Linked DNA regions of Homo sapiens: region 1 is linked to region 2. Evidence: fine-mapped expression QTL. A gene starts in region 2. The other region holds a variant in brackets. All regions are shown on one strand. Distances are between the middles of the regions.

Region 1 (11,151 bases), 33 kb before region 2:
TGAATAATAATATAATACAGCTTTCAAATTACTTTATGCTGTTACTTTATTTCTATTGTATTCACATGTGAAAGTATGTGATCAGTTGTTGCTGTATCAGAGATATTAGAGATTCTTTATTAGTTGGGCATTCTTTATGACCTTTTCTATAAAAGAGTAAGGACATTAAAATGTAAGATGCATGATAAAAATATAAGTAGCGAGGCTCATTGTAGTTAGCCTAAATTAAGTAATGTTTAAGGTAGGTGTTCATGGCCAGGCGCGGTGGCTCACACCTGTAATCCCAGCACTTTGTGAGGCCGAGGCGGGTGGATCATGAGGTCAGGAGATCGAGACCATCCTGGCTGACACACTGAAACCTCGTCTCTACTAAAAATACACAAAATTAGCCAGGCACGGTGGCGGGTGCCTGTAGTCCCAGCTACAGGCTGAGGCAGAAGAATTGCTTGAACCCGGGACGTAGAGTTTGCAGTGAGCTGAGATCGCACCACTGCACTCCAGACTGGGCAACAGAGCGAGACTCCGTCTCAAAAAAAAAAAAAAAAAGTAAGTGTTCAGAGTAATACTTTTCTACATTATACTGAGAGAAATTATAAATTATAAAGTATATCAAATTATATTATTTTACTAATTTTACTTTTATGTAATAAAATGCAATATATTTAAAAATTGTTAAAAAAATAAAATTTATGTCCTGCTTTTAGGCAAATGGGGAAGGCGGAGAACTTTCCACCCACGTATCTACATCGTATCTACATCTTCTCAATTGTCTTCGGCTTGAAATAATCCTTAGGCTAAAGAGGCGTATTTTGGGGTGGCACATTCTGGTGTCCTTACAGGTACACTACTTTTATTCATGTCTGTTACTACTATTACACCCCCTTCACCTTGGGCCACCCCATCCTCAGTCTCCCTCATTTTTCTTTACAGTTAGCACCATTTACCCATTCACGGAGAACCTTACAGTTCTCGCAACAGGGTGATCACTCAGTAAGTACTGTTGTCCCTTTGGTCTGTTTCTGGCAGCGATTAGCTGTGCGCATTCTTTGAGAGGAGCGACGGAGGGAACAGAAGAGGGTACTAGTGAAGAACTAAGGTGCTTCACCCAAATAGATAGGGAAGGAGGAGGAGAGCTGAGGCGAGCCTCAGCTTCTGCCTTTTTTTTTTTTTTTTTTTTTTTGAGACGGAGTCTGGCTCTGTCTCCCAGGCTGGAGTGCAGTGGCGCAATCTCGGCTCACTGCAAGCTCCGCCTCCCGGGTTCACGCCATTCTCCTGCCTCAGCCTCCCGAGTAGCTGGGACTACAGGCGCCCGCCACTATGCCGAGCTAAATTTTTGTATTTTTAGTAGAGACGGGGTTTCACCGTGTTAGCCAGGATGGTCTCGATCTCCTGACCTCATGATCCACCCACCTCGGCCTCCCAAAGTGCTGGGATTACAGGCTTGAGCCACCGCGCCCGGCCAGCTTCTGCCTTCGATGTCTTCTGAAGGAGGGTGGGCTTCGAGGCGGCAGGATGTGCTTAGGGCACTGAGTGGCCCAGAGTGGGGAGCTCCTGCAGGGTTGAGAGGACCGGCGGGGCGAGGTCGGGGCGGGGCTCGCAGGACCTGGGCGGGGCTCGCAGGGGCTGGGCGGCCTGGGGGCGGGGCTGGGCGGAGCGCGCAGCCGCGCAGCGGTGGGAGGACTGCGGGGCTCTTGAGGCCAGCTGCAGAGCTTGTGGAGGCCATGGGGCGCGTCGTCGCGGAGCTCGTCTCCTCGCTGCTGGGGTTGTGGCTGTTGCTGTGCAGCTGCGGATGCCCCGAGGGCGCCGAGCTGCGTGCTCCGCCAGATAAAATCGGTAGGCGAGAAGGGGGCGGCGCGGGAAGGTGCTGGAGCGCGCCCCGCGCCGGGCGGCCGCTGCGCAGTGCGCCCAGATCCCACAGCCGCGACGCAGTCCAGCGGTGCAGGCCGAGCCAGCTGCGCAGGTCGCGCTTTCCCCCATTCACACTTCAGGGCGGCTTTCAGCTCTGGTCGGAATAGGACTGTGCATTCCCAGGCGTGGAGAGGTGCCCACTTGAGGAATGGGCGTGGACGGGGACAGGGGCGGGCGGGCAGGCAGGCGCCTAGCGTACCTGTAGCCCCTGTCTCTTAGGTGTGGGGCTCCGGGGAGGCCTAGGTTTCTCTATCTTCCCGTTGAACACTGACCGTGAAGACTCCAGTGTTCTGGCTTGACCTGGGGCGCCCGGCCAGATTAACAGGCTCACGCAGGCACAGCACAGGGAGGAGTGCAAACAAGTTGACCCTGCCTGCTTCCCTTGGGAGGCTGAACCGCCTTCCCCCAGCTCCGCTTTGCTGAGGTCGGCCTGCTCTCAGAGGCCCTTGGCTTGCACAGTTTCTCCGCCTAGGACTAACACAGCTGCAGAAAGAATCTGTTCTCTTTCCACTGTCAAGAGCTCCAGTGTCAGGAGCCTTGGCTCTTTGCTTCCTGTCTCCCTCCCGCCCCCCTTTAAAGTTGTGTTCTTCGGTATCATTAACCTATCTACATTGAATCTAGACACAACAAAGCTAGGCATAAATGGCCGTCACTTTATTAAAAATGCGTGCTGGAAAGGTCCACCTCTAATGTGCCCGTGAGTTGGGCATCTGGAAGGGTGTGCAGGCCCCTTGGTTCCTCCATAAAGACCTGTGAGAATCTTTGGGCATCTGGAAAAAAAATCGAGTTAATGTCAATATGTTAATTAATCTACTGCTTTTGTCTGGGAACAGTGTCTGTCCAGATTCAGGGAGTTAGACCTTCGCTGCAGGTGTCACTCTTCCCCCACCAAATTGTTGGTAATAGCTTTGAGTAACAACCTCTGCTATTGATGGTCTTTCAAAAACAAAACAACTCACAGAGCTGGTAAAAGGGGAAAATATAATCTTCTGTTTTTTTCCCTCATAGCGATTATTGGAGCCGGAATTGGTGGCACTTCAGCAGCCTATTACCTGCGGCAGAAATTTGGGAAAGATGTGAAGATAGACCTGTTTGAAAGAGAAGAGGTCGGGGGCCGCCTGGCTACCATGATGGTGCAGGGGCAAGAATACGAGGCAGGAGGTTCTGTCATCCATCCTTTAAATCTGCACATGAAACGTTTTGTCAAAGACCTGGGTATGTAATTTTGGTCTTGGAGCTCACCAGATTACTGTGTGACATCCCCGGATATTTTTATCAGATGGAGAACTGAAATTTCTGCCTTGTTAATTGCCTTACAGAGACGTTGGTAAAACTGTTTTCCTCACTTTCTTGTTAGTTGGTACTGCCTGAGTTAGGAGCAGTTCTGCTGTAATGGGACACTAGTTGTCTGTATCTTCAGTTATCTGGAATTACAGCCATGGGGTGGGGGTGGGAATGGCTGCCATTGTCTTTTTTTTTCTTTTGAGGAGTTTCGCTCTTGTCGCTCAGGCTGGAGTGCAATGGTGCGATCTTGGCTCACTGCAACCTCTGCCTCCCGGGTTCAAGCGATTCTCCTGCCTTAGCCTCCTGAGTAGCTGGGATTACAGGTGCCTGCCACCACGCCCAGCTAATTTTTGTATTTTCAGTAGTGACGGGGTTTCACCATGTTGGCCAGCTGGTCTTGAACTCCTGACCTCAGGTGATCCGCCTGCCTTGGCCTTCCAAAGTGCTGGGATTACAGGGGTGAGCCACCGTGCCCGGCCTCTGTTGTCTGTTCTTAAAATTCTGGGTTTGTGTTAAAGAATCAGAGAAGGTTTGGAGATAGTCATCTCATTGTGATCATTTTGCAGCTGAGTAAATGAGACCCAGAGACTTGAATTGTCTGGCTCAAAGTCACTCACATATGGCCATGGCCAGGGTCAGTGGCTCATGCCTGTAATCCCAGCACTTTGGGAGGCCGAGGCAGAGGATCACTTGAGCCCAGGAGTTAGAAACCAGTCTGGGCAACATAGTGAGATCCTGTCTTTACTAAAAATAAAAAAGTTAGCCTGGTGTGATGGCACAAACCTGTAGTCCCAGCTTCTTGGGAGGCAGAGGCAGGAGGATCCCTTGAGCCTGGGAGATAGAAGCTGCAGTGAGCCTTGCATGCCACTGCACTCCAGCCTGGGCAACAAAGTGAGACCCTATCAAAACAAACCACCACCAACAAAACAAACTCCGTCACACAGCTGTGGATGCAGACACGTGCCTAGAACTTGGGATGTGCAACTGCTGCCCTGACAGCAGAGGAGCTGGATAGGTCATGGGGAAAGTCTGACAGGCCTCTGGAGGCCCTTTCGGCAGGGAGTATTTTGTAACTTTGGCCTCCTTCCAGTTATCTGAAATATCCAGTTTTGCAAAATAGGATTCTCACAGGAATGGAAGTGCCTCAGCTGCCTTCCACATCCTCTGTAGATGCTGCCTCTGCTTCCGTTTCCTCCACGAGGGCGAAGGTATACCCAGAACAAATTATGCCACGAAGATGCATGTCTGACATCTTTGTTTTTAAATTGAATTCAGTTGGTACTCTGGCTTTTTTCCTTTGACTATCCAGTTTTTTTAGACTTTTAGTCTAAAAATAGCCAGGTAAAAATATATCTACTTTTGATATATTAATATTTACATGATCATCTGACCCATCGCCTAGCAAATCTGCTTTTGGACAGTGTAGTGAAAGTATAGTGTTTCACACTGTTCCAAAGATAGAGCTCCTTTATGTGTCTCCTGAGAACTGAGGGAAGCCCCAAATTCACTCAGATTACGTTCTTTCATTTGATCAGCATAGACACCACTGACTTAGCTGTGCTTTATGTTTTTGCAGGTCTCTCTGCTGTTCAGGCCTCTGGTGGCCTACTGGGGATATATAATGGAGAGACTCTGGTATTTGAGGAGAGCAACTGGTTCATAATTAACGTGATTAAATTAGTTTGGCGCTATGGATTTCAAT[C/T]CCTCCGTATGCACATGTGGGTAGAGGACGTGTTAGACAAGTTCATGAGGTAATTTTTTTTCCTTCCATTTAACCTAAGATCTTTTAATTTAGGTTAAATTAAACTTGATGAACTTTAGGAATTATGATTTCTTGTAAGCATTTTCTACCTCACAGCAAGGCCTGTTTATAACATTGTTAGGCAAAATGTTTTGTAGAAACTATGCAGACTATTTGCTTGGATATTGAAAGGTTGGTTTATTTTTGCTTCTGAAGTGTATTTTGCAAATGCTTCTTTAGTGTTGCCAGATACTGTTAGATGCCTTGAATTCTTATGACAACTTACTCTGGTAGGTACTGTTTTTAGCTTCTTTAAACAGATGCAGAAGGTGGCGGTGTAGAGAGGTTTTAAAAGGCAAGTTCACCCACATAGTAAGTGGTATAGCTGGAGTTGCCACCCAGGCAGTCTGGCCTTTGAGTCTTCACTCTTAATCTCTATGCTGTGCTGGTGTTGTGTATATGAATTGAGATAATGTGTACAAGAGCTTGTAGAAAGGATCAGAAAACTTAAATGGCCTTTAATAGTGACATGTTTTCAGTGAACCAGCAGCCTGAAGTAGAGTAAAAGTTCCATATTCCAAGAATTTACATTCTAGCACTGTTTTGGGTAGTGAGAATTCAGGTGCCTCTTTTTCGTCCTTATGCTTTTCTATATTTAAACAGTTTTTTTAATGCGTGTGAATATGTATCACTTTGGTAATCAGGAAGACTAACATAAAATAGCCAGTCTAATTTTGAAAGGTACAATCTGTATTTTTAAAGCTGTTGGCATGTTCTAGTTTTTTAGTTTTTTTGTTTTTTTGTTTTTGAGATGGAGTTTCGCTTGTTGCCTAGGCTGGAGTGCAATGGTTCGATATTGGCTCACTGCAACCTCTGCCTCTTGGGTTCAAGCGATACTCCTGCCTCAGGCTCCCGAGTAGCTGGGATTACAGATGCCTGCCACCACGCCCAGCTAATTTTTGTATTTTTAGTAGAGATGGGGTTTCACCCTCTTGGCCAGGCTGGTCTCGAACTCCTGACCTCAGGTGATCCACCTGCCTCGGCCTCCCAAAGTGCTGGGATTACAGGTGTGAGCTACCGAGCTTGGCCGGCATGTGCTAATTTTTTTTTTTTTTTTTTTTGAGATGGAGTTTTGCTCTGTCGCCCGGGCTGGAGTGCAGTGGCACCATCTCGGCTCACTGCAACCTCTGCCTCCCTGGTTCAAGCGATTCTCCTGCCTCAGACTCCCGAATAGCTGGGATTACAGGTGCCTGCCACTGTGCCTGGCTAATTTTTTGTATTTTTAGTAGAGACGGGGTTTCACTGTGTTAGCCAGGATGGTCTTGATCTCCTGACCTCGTGATCCGCCTGCCTCAGCCTCCCAAAGTGTTGGGATTGCAGGCATGAGCCACTGTGCCCGGCTAGCACATGCTAATTTTTATGCTGCTTTACAGTTTTAGGTACTGGAGGCCAGGATCGCATCATTACACTCCAGCCTGGGTGACAGAACAAGATTCCATCTTGAGGGGAAAAACAAAACAAAACAAAACATGTCATATGACCAGGTATTGAACAGGACAAATATGAGTTAAGCAGGGCTGGGCACAGTGGCTTATGCCTCTAATCCCAGAATTTTGGGAGGCTGAGGCTGGTGGATCACCTGAGGTCAGGAGTTTGAGACCAGCCTGACCAACATGGTAAAACCCTGTCTCTACAAAAAATATAAAAATTTAGCCGGCGTGGTGGTGCATGCCTGTAATCCCAGCTACTTGTGAGCCTGAGGCAGGAGAATCACTTGAACCTGGGAGGCAGAGGTTGCAGTGAGCCACGATCGTGCCATTACACTCTAGCCTGGGGGACAGAGCCAGACTGTCTAAAAAAAAAAAAAAGAAAGCTAAGCAGGATATGCTCTGGTTTCTATAACTCATGGTAGTTTGGGGTTTCTTTCTTTCTCAACATCATTCTTAGGTCAGTTCCTTAAATGCCTTTCCCGTGGGTACCTTAAGTCCATCTACAGTGCATAATGTTTTTAAGTAGCCATTCATTCATTCACCCAATATTGAATACCTGTTAGGTGCTAGGCATTGTTCTATGTTGAGAGTATAGGACCTACAACATGTCCTTGTCCTCAAAGAATATATATTCTAGTGGAGAGACAGGCAATACACAACCAAGGAAATATATAGAATTTGCGTAGAGACGGCCAGTCACTTTATAGAAGGTGGGTGGCATGGTGCTGCATACTCAGCAGGCAGATCAAGTTCTGATGGCATCAGCCCTGCTTGTGTGTATTGTTTTTCTTTTCTTTTCTTTTTTTTTTTTGAGATAGAGTCTCGTTTTGTCGCCCAGGCTGGAGTGCAGTGGCGGGATCTCGGCTTACTGCAACATCTGCCTCCCAGGTTCAAGTGATTCTCCTGCCTCAGCCTCCTGAGTAGCTGGGACTACAGGCACATGCCACCATGCCTGGTTAATTTTTTGTATTTTTAGTAGAGATGTGGTTTCACCGTGTTAGCCAGGCTGGTCTCAAACTCCTGACCTTGTGATCTGCCTGTCTCGGCTTCCCAAAGTGTTGGGATTATAGGCGTGAGCCACTGTGCCCGGCCCTCTTTTTTTTTTTTTTTTTTTTGATACAGGTCTCACTCTGTCACCCAGGCTGGAGTGCAGTGGTGTGATCATGGCTCACTGCAGCCTGGACCTCCTGGGCTCAGGGGATCTGCCTACCTTAGCCTCTGTGTAGCTGGGACTACAGGCACGTGCCATCAGATCTGGCTAATTTTTTGTATTTTTTTTGTAGAGATGAGGTTTGGCCATGTTGCCCAGGCTGGTCTTGAATTCCTGGGCTCGAGTGTTCCACTCACCTGGGCCTCCCAAAGTGTTGGGATTACGGTTGTGAGCTCCTGTTCCCAGCCTTGTTTTTTTTTTTATCTGTGGCTTGCTTGAGATGTAGAGAATTGCCCTTTGAGAAATTAAGAAATTACTTTTTTTTTTTTGAGATGAGTTTCACTCTGTCACCCAGGCTGGAGTGCAGTGGTGCAATCTCGGCTCACTGCAACCTCTGCCTCCTGAGTCCAAGCGATTCTCCTGCCTCAGCCTCCTGAGTAGCTGGGATTACAGGCATGTGCCACCATACCCAGATAATTTTTTTATTTTTAGTAGAGATGGGGTTTTACCATGTTGGCTAGGCTGGTCTCAAACTCCTGGCCTTAATTGATCTGCCCGCCTTGGCCTCCTAAAGTGCTGCGATTACAGGCATGAGCCACCGCACCTGGCCTAAGAAATCACTTTTGAAGTGAATTCAAGGTATTACAGAACTGGGAAAAAGAACCAGTGAGGGGATACATAGGTTATACTGTTTTTGACTTTAAAAAATAATTTACGGGCCGGGCGCGGTGGCACACGCCTGTAATCCCAGCACTTTGGGAGGCCAAGGCAGATAGATCTTGAGGTCAGGAGTTCGAGACCAGCCTGGCCAACATGGTGAAACTCCGCCTTGCTAAAAATACAAAAATTAGCTGGGTGTGGAGGCGCAGCTAATGCCAGCTACTTGGGAGGCTGAGGCAGTAGAATCGCTTGAACCCAGGAAGCGGAGGTTGTGGTGAGCCAAGATCAAAGTATACACAAGGTGGAGAAAGACCTATGTAACAGTAGTAAACCATGACACTCGAAAGAGGGCTCAAGCTTGTGGTAGGCAATACTCGAAAACAGTGCATTCATTCATTCTCTGCTGTTGGAGGTACTTGAGTGGAAATCCTGCAGCCCCTGACATCAGCACTAGCTAGCTTAATTTCCACTTCTGCACATACATTTATGTAGTTGTTCTGGTTGGATGCCATTCTTAACTAATTTTTTTTTTTTTTTTTTTTTTGAGACCAAGTCTTGCTCCGTCACCCAGGCTGGAGTACGGTGGTGCAATCACAGCTCACTGCAGCTTTGACCTCCTGGTCTCAAGTCATCTTCCAGCCTCAGCTGGGACTATAGGCATGTGCCATCATGCTTGGCTAATTTTTTAAATTTTTGTAGAGACAGGGTGTTGCCATGTTGCCCAAGCTGATCTTGAACTCCTGGGCTCAAGTGATCCTCCCACCTTGGCCTCCCAAAGTGTTGGGATTACAGGCGTGAGCCACCGCGCTCAGCCGGATGCCATTCTTTACTCCCAAGTCCAACCTCTTATCTCACTTTTTCAGCAAAGCATTTCCTTAATGCTTCAATCAACATTCATCTTTCTTTTCAAACATCCCTTATTATACGGTGCACACTGTGTGCTTGTGTTCTATGCTACGCACAGTAACTAGAATGTAGTAGATGTTTACTCAGATGTTTGTGGAATTTAAATCTCTGGTCTGCTGATGGCTTCCTGTTGAGATATCTTGGCTTGTAGACTAGGTTAAAGCTTATTCTTCTCTCTCAAGTTAGTGCATTTCTGGGGACTTGTAAGATCCTTAACACTTCTTGATCTGAGACTGATAGACTCACAGGGAAAGGCTTTATAAACACCCTTTCTTCCTTCCAGTTACTCCTACCAAATATTTTGAGTCAATTTTTGTTCTTTCATTTCCCAAACCCACTCTATCTTGAATCCCATCAGCCTTTAAAATACATCCAGTATTCCACTACTTCTCTCCAGGATTACTGCTACCACTTTGTTCCAAGTCACCACCACTGTCTCTTGTCTGGATTGCTAGAGTAGCCTCCTATTATAGGCTGAATAATCCTCTCCCCTGCTGTCTGCCACAAGATGTCCATGTCTTAATTCCTGGAACCTGTGAATGTGTTACCTTTTGAGGTAAAAGAGACGTTGCAGATATGGTTAAGGATGGGTAGATTATTCTGGATTATCTAGGTGGGCCCAATATAATCACAAGGGTCCTTAGAGAGGCAGGAGGATCAGGGTAGGTAGTAGGAGATGTGATGATGGAAGGAAGAGATTGGAGTGATGCTAGGAAGGGGTGTGCGTCCACGAGCCAAGGAATGCAGGTGGCCTGTAGAGGCTGGAAAAGACAGTCTTCCCTCAGAGCTTCTAGAAGGAACCAGCCTTGTGCACACCTTGATTTTAGCCCGGAGAGACTGACTTTGGTCTTCTAATTTACAGAACCGTAAGATTATAACTTTTTTTTTTTTTGTTAGTATTTATTAATCATTCTTGGGTGTTCTTCGGAGAGGGGGATTTGGCAGGGTCATAGGACAATAGTGGAGGGAAGGTCAGCGGATAAACATGTGAACAAAGGTCTCTGGTTTTCCTAGGCAGAGGGCCCTGCCGCCTTCCGCAGTGTTTGTGTCCCTGGGTACTTGAGATTAGGGAGTGGTGATGACTCTTAACGAGTATGCTGCCTTCAAGCATCTGTTTAACAAAGCACATCTTGCACCGCCCTTAATCCATTTAACCCTTAGTGGACACAGCACATGTTTCAGAGAGCATGGGGTTGGGGGTAAGGTCATAGATAAACAGCATTCCAAGGCAGAAGAATTTCTCTTACTACAGAACAAAATGGAGTCTCCTATGTCCACCTCTTTCTACACAGACACAGTAACAATCCGATCTCTCCTTCCTTTCCCCACATTTCCCCCACTTCTATTCGACAAAACTGCCATCGTCATCATGGCCCGTTCTCAATGAGCTATTGGGTACACCTCCCAGACGGGGTGGCGGCTGGGCAGAGGGGCTCCTCACTTCCCAGACAGGGCGGCTGCTGGGCGGAGGGGCTCCTCACTTCTCAGAGAGGGCGGCTGGTCAGAGAGGCTCCTCACCTCCCAGACGGGATGGCGGCGGGGCAGAGACACTCCTCAGTTCCCAGACGGCGTCGCGGCCGGGCAGAGGCGCTCTTCACATCTCAGACGGGGCGGCGGGGCAGAGGCGCTCCCCACATCCCAGACGATGGGCAGCCGGGCAGAGACGCTCCTCACTTCCTAGACGGGATGACGGCCGGGAAGAGGCGCTCCTCACTTCCCAGACTGGGCGGCCGGGCAGAGGAGTTCCTCACATCCCAGACGATGGGCGGCCAGGCAAAGACACTCCTCACTTCCTAGACGGGGTGGCGGCTGGGCAGAGGCTGCAATCTCAGCACTTTTGGGAGGTCAAGGCAGGCGGCTGGGAGGTGGAGGTTGTAGCGAGCCGAGATCACGCCACTGCACTCCAGCCTGGGCAACATTGAGCACTGAGTGAGCGACACTCCGTCTGCAATCCTGGCACCTCGGGAGGCCGAGGCTGGCAGATCACTCATGGTCAGGAACTGGAGACCAGC
Region 2 (11,151 bases):
AAAAAAAACCCCAAAACAACAACAAACTTACATGATAACTTCTTGTCCATAAATCTGAAAAAGGAAAAGGGTAAAGATTATATAACCAATTAAAAAAATTTAAGCATAAACAAGTAAATAGGTATAGTTAAGATAATTTGCTAAAATTTATACAATGGGAATAATGAAATCTAAAATAGTAAAAATAATGTATTGCTGTAAAGAGTGAGGGAGTAGGGCGAGGTAGCTCACGCCTGTAATCCCAGCACTTTAGGGGGCTGAGGCGGGTGGACTGCTTGAGCTCAGGAGTTGAGACCAGCCTGGGCAACATGGTGAAACCCCATCTCTACCAAAAATACAAAAATTAGCTGGGGGTGGTGGCACATGCCTATGGTTCCAGCTACTTGGGAGGCTGAGGTCGGAGAATCACTGGAGCCTGCCACGTTGAGGCTGCAGTGAGCCATGATTGCGCCACTGCACTCCAGCTTGGGCAATAGAGCGAAACTGTCTCAGGGGAAAAAAAGAGTGGGGGCGTAAAGGGTTACCTAAATTAGACATTCTAGGAAGCAAAGTAATTTGGGAAGAGGAAAGGCAATAAAAATGAAACATATTTAGACTATATTAATTTACATTAAGTAGAGTATACTAATGTGAATTACATTCTTATTGTTCAATACTACGTTGTTTCATTGACCTAAATTTCTTTCTTTTTTTTTTTTTTTTTAAGAGATGGGAGTCTCATTATGTTGCCCAGGCTGGTCCTGAATTCCTGGCCTCGAAAAATATACTCCCCCTCAGCCTCCCAAAGTGCCGCTGGGATTACACAGGCATGAGCTACCACATCTGGTCTCATTGACCTAATTTTCAATGACTGGATTTTATAGTCACAAGAGAAAAACAAAGACTTGCCTATGTTTGGTTATTTCCAAAACTAAGTTGTAAAGACAGCAAACAGTAATCAAATCATATCCAATTCAATAGGTATTTTATATTTGAAATAAGTAGTGTTCTTTTATTTAATATTAAAGCATCAAGCATAAATGTTCAGGGTAGTCCTCAACATTTAAGTATATTTTAGAATAATAAATGCACATTTGAAACTTCAAACGATATGAATTAAAAAAAAATTCCATTTTAGTGGAATACGAGATTAAGCCATGCAGTCAAATCAGTTTTTAATTTCTTCCATATAGGCCAGAAAACATAAAATTTCATTCAATTTTAAAAATTTCATTCAAATTTTAAAATATAAAAAAATGAAAAAAAGATGTTTAGTATATGGGCCACGAAGTGGGGCACTTATTCAATTTTAATGTATAGGATTATCATGGGAAAATGTAAATATAAAACAAGGAGCATGACTGAAGGAGGGAGTAGATACATTTACAAGTAAAAATATATTTATGGGCTGGGCGCGGTGGCTCATGCTTGTAATCCCAGCACTTTGGGAGGCCAAGGCGGGCGGATCACCTGAGGTCGGGAGTTCGAGACCAGCCTGATCAACATGGAGAAAACCCGTCTCTACTAAAAAAAAAAAAAAAAAAAAAAAAAAAAAAAAAAAAAATTAGTCGGGTGTGTTGGTGCATGCTTGTAATCCCAGCTACTCGGGAGGCTGAGGCAGGAGAATCGCTTGAACCCGGGAGGCACAGGTTGCGGTGAGCCAAGATCGCGCCACTGCACTCCAGCCTGGGCAATAAGAGTGAAACTCCATCTCAAAACACACACACACACACACACACACACACACACACACACACACACATATATGAAGTAAACTATATTTTAATAAGATACATAAAACGTATCAAATATAACACACAAGATCTTATACAATCTTTACAACGACTTTGCAATTATGGTCTATCATTTCCACCGTTTTTACAGATGGAGAACTAGGCTTGGAAAAGCTAAAGCAATTTTTCAAAGTCACACAGCAAGTGAGAGCAAACACAAATAGTTCAGTGTGACTGGAGAACGGAATACCTGAGTATTAGCAGCTAGAAGGTTTGGTGCTTGAATGCTGGGTTAAGTACAGACTCGATTTTGCATACTGTGATAAATTATTAAAGCAGTCACTGGCAAGACTACCGTGGCAGCAAATTTTAAGAAGTGGAAGGAAGAATTCAGTTAAGCCAGTGTATCTCAACTTCTATACTACTGACATTTGGGACCAGTTAATTTTGTATTGTTGGGGGCAGTCGAATAAGCAGTAGGATGTTTAGCAGCACCCTGGTGTCTACTCACTAGAAGCCGGTAGCACCAGATTCCCTACTCCCCATTTAAGAACACCTGAGTTATGCTACACCAGAAGGAGGGCATAATGGTGTAAAAGAAGATGCTATCTGTGAGAAAGCAGAGGAAGAAAAAATTTTTAAGTCATTTTGGCGGCAGATCTGACCGGATTTCACAATTCATGAAACCTACGAGGAAGAGAAAGGTATTAAAACTAGCTTCCTTCTCTGAAATTTTCAAAAACTATGTTATGAATCAGAAAGAAAATCTTAGATTACAAGTAGAGAATGGTCTTTTTGTTAAAAAAAAAAAAATCACCATTTCACCAGTCCCTGATGAATCCAGAGGATACTTACATCACCAAAAATAACTTTCAGATAAAAAGAGTAATTTTCACAATAATTTCTGAGTAACTTCTATTTTTTTTTTTTTTTTTGAGACGGAGTCTCGCTCTGTTGCCCAGGCTGGAGTGCAGTGGCGCGATCTCGGCTCACTGCAAGCTCCGCCTCCCGGGTTCACGCCATTCTCCTGCCTCAGCCTCCCGAGTAGCTGGGACTACAAGCGCCCGCCACCAAGCCCACGTAATTTTTTGTATTTTTATAGACACGGGGTTTCACCGTTTTAGCCATGATGATCTCCATCTCCTGACCTCGTGATCCGCCCGCCTCGGCCTCCCAAAGTGCTGGGATTACAGGCGTGAGCCACCGCGTTGGGCTTATGTTTTAATAATTAATTCCTTAACAGACCTAACTAAAATATACATAGAAGTAGTTTTCATACAAAAGATGGCTTTGATACAAATGGACCTTTAAATGCAAAAATATTATTATTTTTTGAAACAGAGTTTCGGTCTTGTTACCCAGGCTGGAGGGCAATGGCGCGATCTTGACTCACTGCAACCTCCGCTTCCCGGGTTCAAGCGATTCTCCTGCCTCAACCTCCGGAATAGCTGAGACTACAGGCGCACACCACCTGCCTGGCTAATTTTTTGTATTTTTAGTAGAGACGGGGGTTTCACCATGTTGGCCAGGCTGGTCTCGAACTCCTGACCTCAGGTGATCCTCCCGCCTCAGCCTCCCAAAGTGCTGGGATTACAGGCGTGAGCCACTGTGCCCGGCCGCAAAATTATTAAATAGGAACTTTACCTTTTGTCTGACTTCCATGGGCCTGGTAATAAATGAACTAACTATACACAAAGCCAACCACATGCTACGCCAGAAAAAACTGATCCCTGTAAAAATTTTGCATCCTTTGTGCAATCCAACTAATACATGTAGAATTCCAGCATCAGGAAGTATAAGCAAAACAGAAACGTAGTCAGGAAACACATAACCTGTTAAGTCCACTCAAAAAGTATTTGAGGAATTCAAAGCTTTACGTTGAGTCCTACCTAAAGTAAGGCTCTCCTACTTAAAGTTGTTTGACTTTACTGGGTGTGTAGAAAAAACTTCAAAAAATTAGCCTTCTCTGACTAGAAAAAATTAATGTTCTTAAAAAAAAAGAAAAATGAATGTTCTTATATAGTTTCAACATCAGAGCAAGATAACACATGACATTCAAGCTTAACGTAAAAGAAGGCAAGAAAAAGGAATGAGGTTTCTAAGTAAAAGCTCAAACACCTACAAACACATTTGCTAAGACTAAAGTGGCTTTCGGATTCTGATGCCTCACGTAGTTTTAAAAACACTTCCTTCCCTTCCAGCCCCTCCTTAGTTCCTTCAGAGAATTTCCCCCTCTAGCCGTCTATCTAGAACATGATACTATTCGAGATGTTCAACAAAAGGTAGCACTGGAGATCTTCAAGGAACGAGGGACAGCGCCGGGTGACCAGGGGCCAGACCGCGGGACCTGGAGACTAGTCGGCCGGAAGGAGGTGCCGTGGCTGCCGGCTGTAACCACACCGACGCGCGAGCTCTGCGCGGGCTTCACGTCTCATGCGCGGGAGCCTGGCCGGGATCCCGGCGACCTCGGACCGGAAGAAGAAATGAAGTGAAGCGGCTCAAGACATTCGGCTAACGGAGAGGGAACCAAGGGACTCGCAGGACGCAAATAACTGACCACTTCGGTTTGGCTCTCACACATACTTACTTTTTCAACTCGGGAGGGTGAGCTTTGCTCATGGTGTATACTCCGCGGGCTCACAGATGCCTTGGAACGCAACGCACGGCTTTCCTCACGCTCCCGCTGTAGGCCCGGCGTCTTGCGTCTGGCGTCATCGACCTCGTTAGCCAATGGATTGTTGGCAGTTTTTACATTTCACCTCGCGATATCTCAGCGCCTCGGTCATCGTTGAGCTTCCGGTTATGTCCTCAGCGATTGGCCAGGACGGAGGGGTGCGTCCTCTAGGCACCTTTCTGAATTCCGTTTTCCTTGTACAAAATTGAGATAACGGGTATTCCACCGGTGGGTATCCCTGCTCTTTTTCTTTTCTTTTTGAGACGGAGTCTAGCTCTGTCGCCCAGGCTGGAGTGCAGTGGCGCGATCTCGGCTCACTGCAAGCTCCGCCTCCCGGCCTCACGCCATTCTCCTGCCTCAGCCACCCGAATAGCTGGGACTACAGGCGCCCGCCACCATGCCCGGCTAATTTTGTGTATTTTTTAGTAGAGACGGGGTTTCGCCGTGTTAGCCAGGATGGTCTCGATCTCCTGACCTCGTTATCCGCCCGCCTCGGCCTCCCAAAGTGCTAGGATTACAGGCGTGAGCTACCGCGCCCAGCCGGTTATCCCTGCTCTTGTCTATGGAACAGCCAAAATAAATAAAAATAAATAAATAAATAAAAAAAGCCGGGCGCCGTAAATCCCAGAACTTTGGATCTCTTGAGCCCAGGAGTTCGAGACCAGCCTGTGCAACATAGCGAGACCCCTTCTCTATTTAAAAAATAAAATTGAGATATTGAGATAACGGTCCCGTCTCTAGCTCCTGGGCAAACCCGGCCAATCCCGCATGTCTGTGGATCGTATCGCTTATTTTCTTCATATATACCAATATACCAAATGATAATGATCCCTGGAGGAATGGGCCTCTCTCTATATATGTATATTTTTTTGAGACGGAGTCTTGCTCTGTCGCCCAGGCTGGAGTGCAGTGGCGCGATCTCGGCTCACTGCAAGCTCTGCCTCCCGGGTTCACGCCATTCTCCTGCCTCAGCCTCCCGAGTAGCTGGGACAACAGGTGCCCGCCACCACGCCGGGCTGATTTTTTGTATTTTTAGTAGACACCGTATTTCACTGTGTTAGCCAGGATGGTCTTGATCTCCTGACCTCGTGATCCGCTGGCCTCGGCCTCCCAAAGTGCTGGGATTACAGGCGTGAGCCCCCGCTCCCGGCTGGGCCTCTATATTTTTTTGGCAGGTAACCCTACAGCATACTGTCAGACCAAGTAGGGTTCCCGTAACATGTAAATTAGCAGCCTCTGAACCATTGTAGAGTAAGGTGACTGGGTCTGTCTCCAAGAATTTGAATCTATTTCTGACTGAGGGGTCTTGCAAAAAAAATTTTTTTTGAGATGAGTTCTTGCTCTGTCGCCTAGGCTGGGGAGCATGGTGTGATCATGGCTCACTGCAACCTCGAACTCCTGGCCTCAAGCAATCCTTCCACCTCAGCCTCCTGAGTTGTTGAGACTACAGGCGCACGCCACTGCACCCAGCTAATTTTTTTTTGTAGAGACGAGGTCTTGCTTTGTTGCCCAGGCTGTTCTCAAATTCCTGGCCTCAAGAGATCTGCCTGCCTCCGGCTCCCAAAGTGCTGAGATTACAGGGGTTAGCCAGCATGCCTGGGAATTCTGAAATTTTTCAAACACTACCTCCAGAACTCACTGATGTGCTATTGCCCCTGTATATAAAATGTGAAGTGCAGCACACAAACATTTTCTAATATAAGGTGTTCTTTTTTCATGTCAAGATGTGTAAAAAGTGGTCTCGGACTTGTTCCCAGTTGTTACCCCAAAATTATAGAAGACTAAACCAAAATAGAATACCTTGTGTTTAAATAGGGGATAGTTCTCAAAAATTCAGTTAATTCCTGATATTCTGGAATGGCTCTATATAAATATCAATGATAGTAAAGACTTAAACTCATCACATATTTTGCACTCTCTTAGTACTCAAAATCCTAGACACTGAATTTTTTCTAGCAGGGTCATAGCTTTGTACCTTTACTACCACTTGCTATTAGTGTTTAGTTGAAGCTAGAGACCTGACATAGATAATGAATTTCTCTTTTTAGCCTCATAGACAGTTTCTTTTCTACATTAATGAACTTCAAGTCACAATGTCCTAGTCTCCTCTCAAAGTTTTTCCCATTTACAGTGAACCAGTTCTGCATCTGAACCATAACAACTAATTTCCACTCTTCTGGACATTTTAACTCATTTAACCTGTTAAAAGGAGAAGCATCCTGAGAAAGTTACATATTCACCACCCAGATATAAGGAAAGAAGACTCAATAGTGGGGAGAAAATTAAACCTTATTTATTTTTAAAGTCAAACCACTAGGAAAATATATCACAGCCTGGAAACAGCAAACGGACAGGCTATATTATAATTTCAAGTAATAAGTTGGTGAAAATTCAACGAAGTTGCTATCAAAACAATAAGGTGCCATGCTGGGGCAGGAACACTGCCAGCTGCACAAGCCCCAGGCAAAAATGGTATTTGGTAATGGGGGCTGTCTCTCCTTTGCTCTAAGGGAGTCAGCTCATCCTAGCCCAAGTTGCTTACTTTTTCTCCCTTGAATTTCCTGTTGCCAGGGGTTTGTCTCAATTGGGCTCTGTTAATTCAGGGGGCTAAGTAGGCAATGCTAGGTGTAGGCTTTCATTCCATATGTTCTAATAAAACCAGGTTTTCCCAAATCCAGTACTTCATTTACTCTGTTGTAATCAAGTAGCCAACTGCTCCTCTTTTACTGTTCATTCCTAGATACTAGTATATATCACAATCAAAACCCCCTTCTCTTCAAGGGGAAAGTGTTACTGCAAGATTGTCCTGTCATTTTGTTACACACAGCCTCAGGGGCCATCAGCCAGTAATTCTGCTTCCCATAATTAGTGTGTCATCACCTCTCATGTTTCTGCACAGTCTCCAGGCTGAAAGATGCAGCATGTAATAATTTTAAGAAATGTACATCCACATCTTGATGACCAGAAATGGGGATCCACAAGGAACATTTCAAAGTTCTTATCCAAACTAGTCTACCTCCCAGTTCCACATCTTAAAATCAACTTGTATGCCCTTGTATAAATTACCCCAAATCAAGAAAACAAAGACCCAGAAAACTTTCTTTCCCTTCTAAGTTAGTGACCTCATTGATTTTGTTTCACAGCTTATGGAAGATGGTGGGGTGACACTTTTGGTAAACAGGATGTTGGCAACAAAGAGAAAATATCTCTCCTCAGACTCCACCAACTCTAACCTGCCAGCCTGTTAGTACCTGTGTAGTAAGAAGAGTCTGGTACCTTGGAGGGCTCTGGCTTGTTACAGGGGAAAGCCTTACTGCCAGGACAAGCACTGGCCACAGGAAATAATAAGCTCTAAAACTCTCCTGTAATATCTCTGACTCGATTTAGCACCACTTTTTTCCATTTCATTTTTTAGGGACTGAAACATAAAATAACCAGTGTCCAGAGGCAAGTGACATATGCCTTACGCTTGTGGCCATCCTTCATTTCTTCATTCGTAAACTTTGCTTAAAAGACTAAAATTCCCAATTCCTTATAAAAAATATATTCTTGCCCTCAGCCCTGATGGCCACTGGCAAATACTTTTATTTTCCAATTGATAAGAGAGCCTCCTTCATCTTCTTGGTCATAGTTGGGATGAGGTGCATGTGGTCATCCACACACTTGGTCACACAACTGTCCAGCTGCTGCTTCACCTGAAGCTCCTTACTCCCAGCATCTATTGAATCTTTGGCTTTGTCGTTGCAATGCATGGTGCACCGGGCCAGGCGGTCCTGTGGCAAGAAGGAAGAACGTAGAAAAAGCTGAGAGTAAGGCCTCCATTTACTGCGTGCTCATTATGTGTTAGGCCCTGTGCTACAGGTTTAATATGTATTATCTTGGTCAATTAAAGGGACATGGTAGTGTGATTGGCCAAGTTTTTTTTTTTTTTTTTTTTTTTGAGCAGAGTCTCACTCTGTTGCCCAGGCTGGAGCGCTGCGCTGCAGTGGCACAATTATGGCTTACTGCAGCCTCAACGTCCCAGGCTCACGCTATCTTTCCACCTCTGCTCTCAAGTAGCTAGGACCACAGGCACACGCCACCACTCTTGGCTAATACTTTCTTAAAAATTATTTTTGTAGAGATGGGATCTCCCTATGTTGCCCAGGCTGGTCTTGAACTCCTGGGCTCAAGTGATCCTCCCTCCTTGGCTTCCCAAAGTGTTGGGATTAGAGGTGTGAGCCACTGTGTTTGGCTTTCCAAGACTGTCTTGACTCAAACAGAAGATGGCACCAGGAGGGCTCAAACTATTACTAGAAAGCAGGTGAATGACAGAATAAATTGGGCAGAACATTCTTCCAGGAAATGAGAGGTCCCTAGAGGTTATTGTAAGATGTACAAACATCTTGATTCTTTTTTTTTTTTTGAGACGGAGTTTCGCTCTTGTTGCCTAAGCTGGAGTGCAATGGCACAATCTCGGCTCACCACAACCTCCACCTCCCGGGTTCAAGTGATTCTCCTGCCTCAGCCTCCTGAGTAGCTAGGATTACAGGCATGCGCCACCATGCCTGGCTAACTTTTTTTGTATTTTTAGTAGAGACGGGGTTTCTCCATGTTGGTCAGGCTGGTCTCAAACTCCCAACCTCAGGTGATCCACCCGCGTCAGCCTCCCAAAGTGCTGGGATTATAGGTGTGAGCCACTGATTCTTTAAAGTCTGTTCTTTCTACAGGAAAACATTCAATTCAACAAATATTTATTGAGCATCTACTATGTGCCAGGCACTCTTTTAATGTTAGGGAATATAGCAATGAGTAAAACAAAGTTCTTACCCTTACAGAACTTACATTCCAGTGAGAGGAAAGAGACAAACAAAGTAAATGGAGATGTGGAGGAATTAGTTGGATATGTGAATGTGGAGTTTATCAGTGAGCTCTGGCCTACAGATATAAATGCAGGAGCTGTCAGCATAGAGATTATATTTACAGCTATGAGGCTAGAGGAGACTAGAGAAGTAGGCAGAAAGGAGAAAAGAAACAAGGACAGCCCCAGGCACTCTGATGCTCAGAGGCTGGAGTGGGGAAGAGAGAGCAAAGGAGGCCAAGGAAGGAGGCAGAAAACCAGGAGAGTGAGATGTCCTGGTGACCAACTGAATAAAGTGCTTTAAGAAGGAGAGGGATCCACTGTGTCAATGATGCAGACAGAGTAAGATGAAGACTGAGAAATGACCCCCGGATTCGGCCCCATGGGGGTGAGTGGCAGGAGTGGTTCTGGCCCAGTGAAGAGTGAAAGTCCACTTGGAGAGGACTAAAAAGATAATGCAAGGGAAGTTATAGAGCAATCCAAGAATCACATTTTCAAAGACCCCATCTATAAAATTAGCTGTCAAAAAGAACACAAAGAAACCCTTTGGGGTTCCATGATCTTGAAGAAGTTATTCCTTCATAATGGCAGTAACTTTGAAGCGTTTTGAATGGAAGAATGTAAAGATGTGTCACATTATGTATAAGTTTCCATGTGGATGGAACCTCAGGCTATGAAAGGCTGGCTTGGAAGTAGGCTTGCTTCCCCCAGGTTCCAGAAAAATATACTTAGAAGATGGGAGTAAAATGAAGTTGTGGATACTCTTTGCTCCAGAGAGGGAAACAGGGAGCTCTTTTGGTAACCTCAGAGGGGCTTGTGAGCCAGGAATCAGTGAGTCAACAGTAATAATGATTCACATAAATGACTGCTCCTTAGTGACAGAGGGGCTGCCCTCTGGGTATAGCAACTAGGGGCAGTCCTGGGTGGGTGTATAAGTCCACAAAATGGTGGAAGGGTGTTCCTCGAATCTGTACCTTTTCAAGGCTATCCTACCTTTCTAGAGATTCTGCTGTTTTAAAAATAATATATGTTTTAGGAAACTTTATTTTTTTATTTTTATTTTATTTATTTTTTGAGACGGAGTCTCGCTCTGTCACCCAGGCTGGAGTGCAGTGACGTGATCTTGGCTCACTGCAAGCTCTGCCTCCCGGATTCACGCCATTCTCCTGCCTCAGCTTCCCGAGTAGCTGGGACTACAGGCGCCCACCACCACACCTGGCCAATTTTTTGTATTTTTAGTAGAGACGGGGTTTCACTGTGTTAGCCAGGATGGTCTGGATCTCCTGACCTCGTGATCTGCCTGCCTCGGCCTCCCAAAGTGCTGGGATTACAGGTGTGAGCCACCGTGCCTGAACATTATTTATTTTTTTTTGAGACGGAGTTTCGCTCTTGTTGTCCAGGCTGGAGCGCAATGGCATGCGATCTTGGCTCACTGCAACCTGCGCCTTCCAGTTTCAAGCGATTCTCCTGCCTCAGCCTCCCGAGTAGCTGGGATTACAGGCACCTGCCACCATGCCCAGATAATTTCTGTATTTTTAGTAGAGATGGGGTTTCACCATGTTGGCCAGGACGGTCTCAAACTCCTGACCTCGTGATCCACCCGCCTCGGCCTCCCAAAATGTTGGGATTACAGGCGCGAGCTACGCGTCCAGCCAGGAAACTTTATACTACACAGTATACATTCTGTATTTGGTGGTTATGTCAAAAGGAACAAACAAACGCCTCCTCCCCAACAAACTGCATAAGGGCTCTTGGTCATGAACTCCCCTGGTAACTCCCCATTACATCATTTCTTTTTTTTTGAGACAGAGTCTCGCTCTGTTGCCAGGCTGAAGTGCAGTGGCGCGATCTTGGCTCACTGCAACTACACCTCCTGGGTTCAAGAGATTCCCCTGCCTCAGCCTCCCTAGTATCTGGGACTACAG

Alleles and levels. Positions count from the first base shown, and alleles are read on the strand shown. Sizes are in standard deviations (SD) of each study's normalised expression.
In carriers of allele T in region 1, the expression in nucleus accumbens of the gene that starts at base 4,422 in region 2 tends to be higher than with C alone (small effect, 0.28 SD a copy in GTEx).

The links.
Region 1: its variant is fine-mapped to the expression of SNRPG in nucleus accumbens (GTEx, PIP 0.95).

Annotation. Positions count from the first base shown.
Region 1 is chr2:70,256,444-70,267,594 of GRCh38, forward strand. PCYOX1 (prenylcysteine oxidase 1) reads left to right here and starts at 1,694. Exons shown (of 6, transcript NM_016297.4): 1 at 1,694-1,833; 2 at 2,917-3,123; 3 at 4,769-4,943. The coding sequence starts at 1,722. RefSeq lists silencers at 1,550-1,679, 1,950-2,059. The variant C/T (reference allele first, on the strand shown) is at 4,895.
Region 2 is chr2:70,289,319-70,300,469 of GRCh38, forward strand. It overlaps SNRPG (small nuclear ribonucleoprotein polypeptide G), which reads right to left and starts at 4,422. Exons shown (of 4, transcript NM_003096.4): 1 at 4,300-4,422; 2 at 32-54. The coding sequence starts at 4,331. FAM136A (family with sequence similarity 136 member A) reads right to left here. Exons shown (of 3, transcript NM_001329752.2): 3 at 6,658-8,159. The coding sequence ends at 7,971. It overlaps LOC124906023 (a long non-coding RNA gene), which reads left to right and starts at 4,584. Exons shown (of 2, transcript XR_007086880.1): 1 at 4,584-4,614; 2 at 5,740-6,696. RefSeq lists enhancers at 3,180-4,087, 4,104-4,583, 11,085-11,151.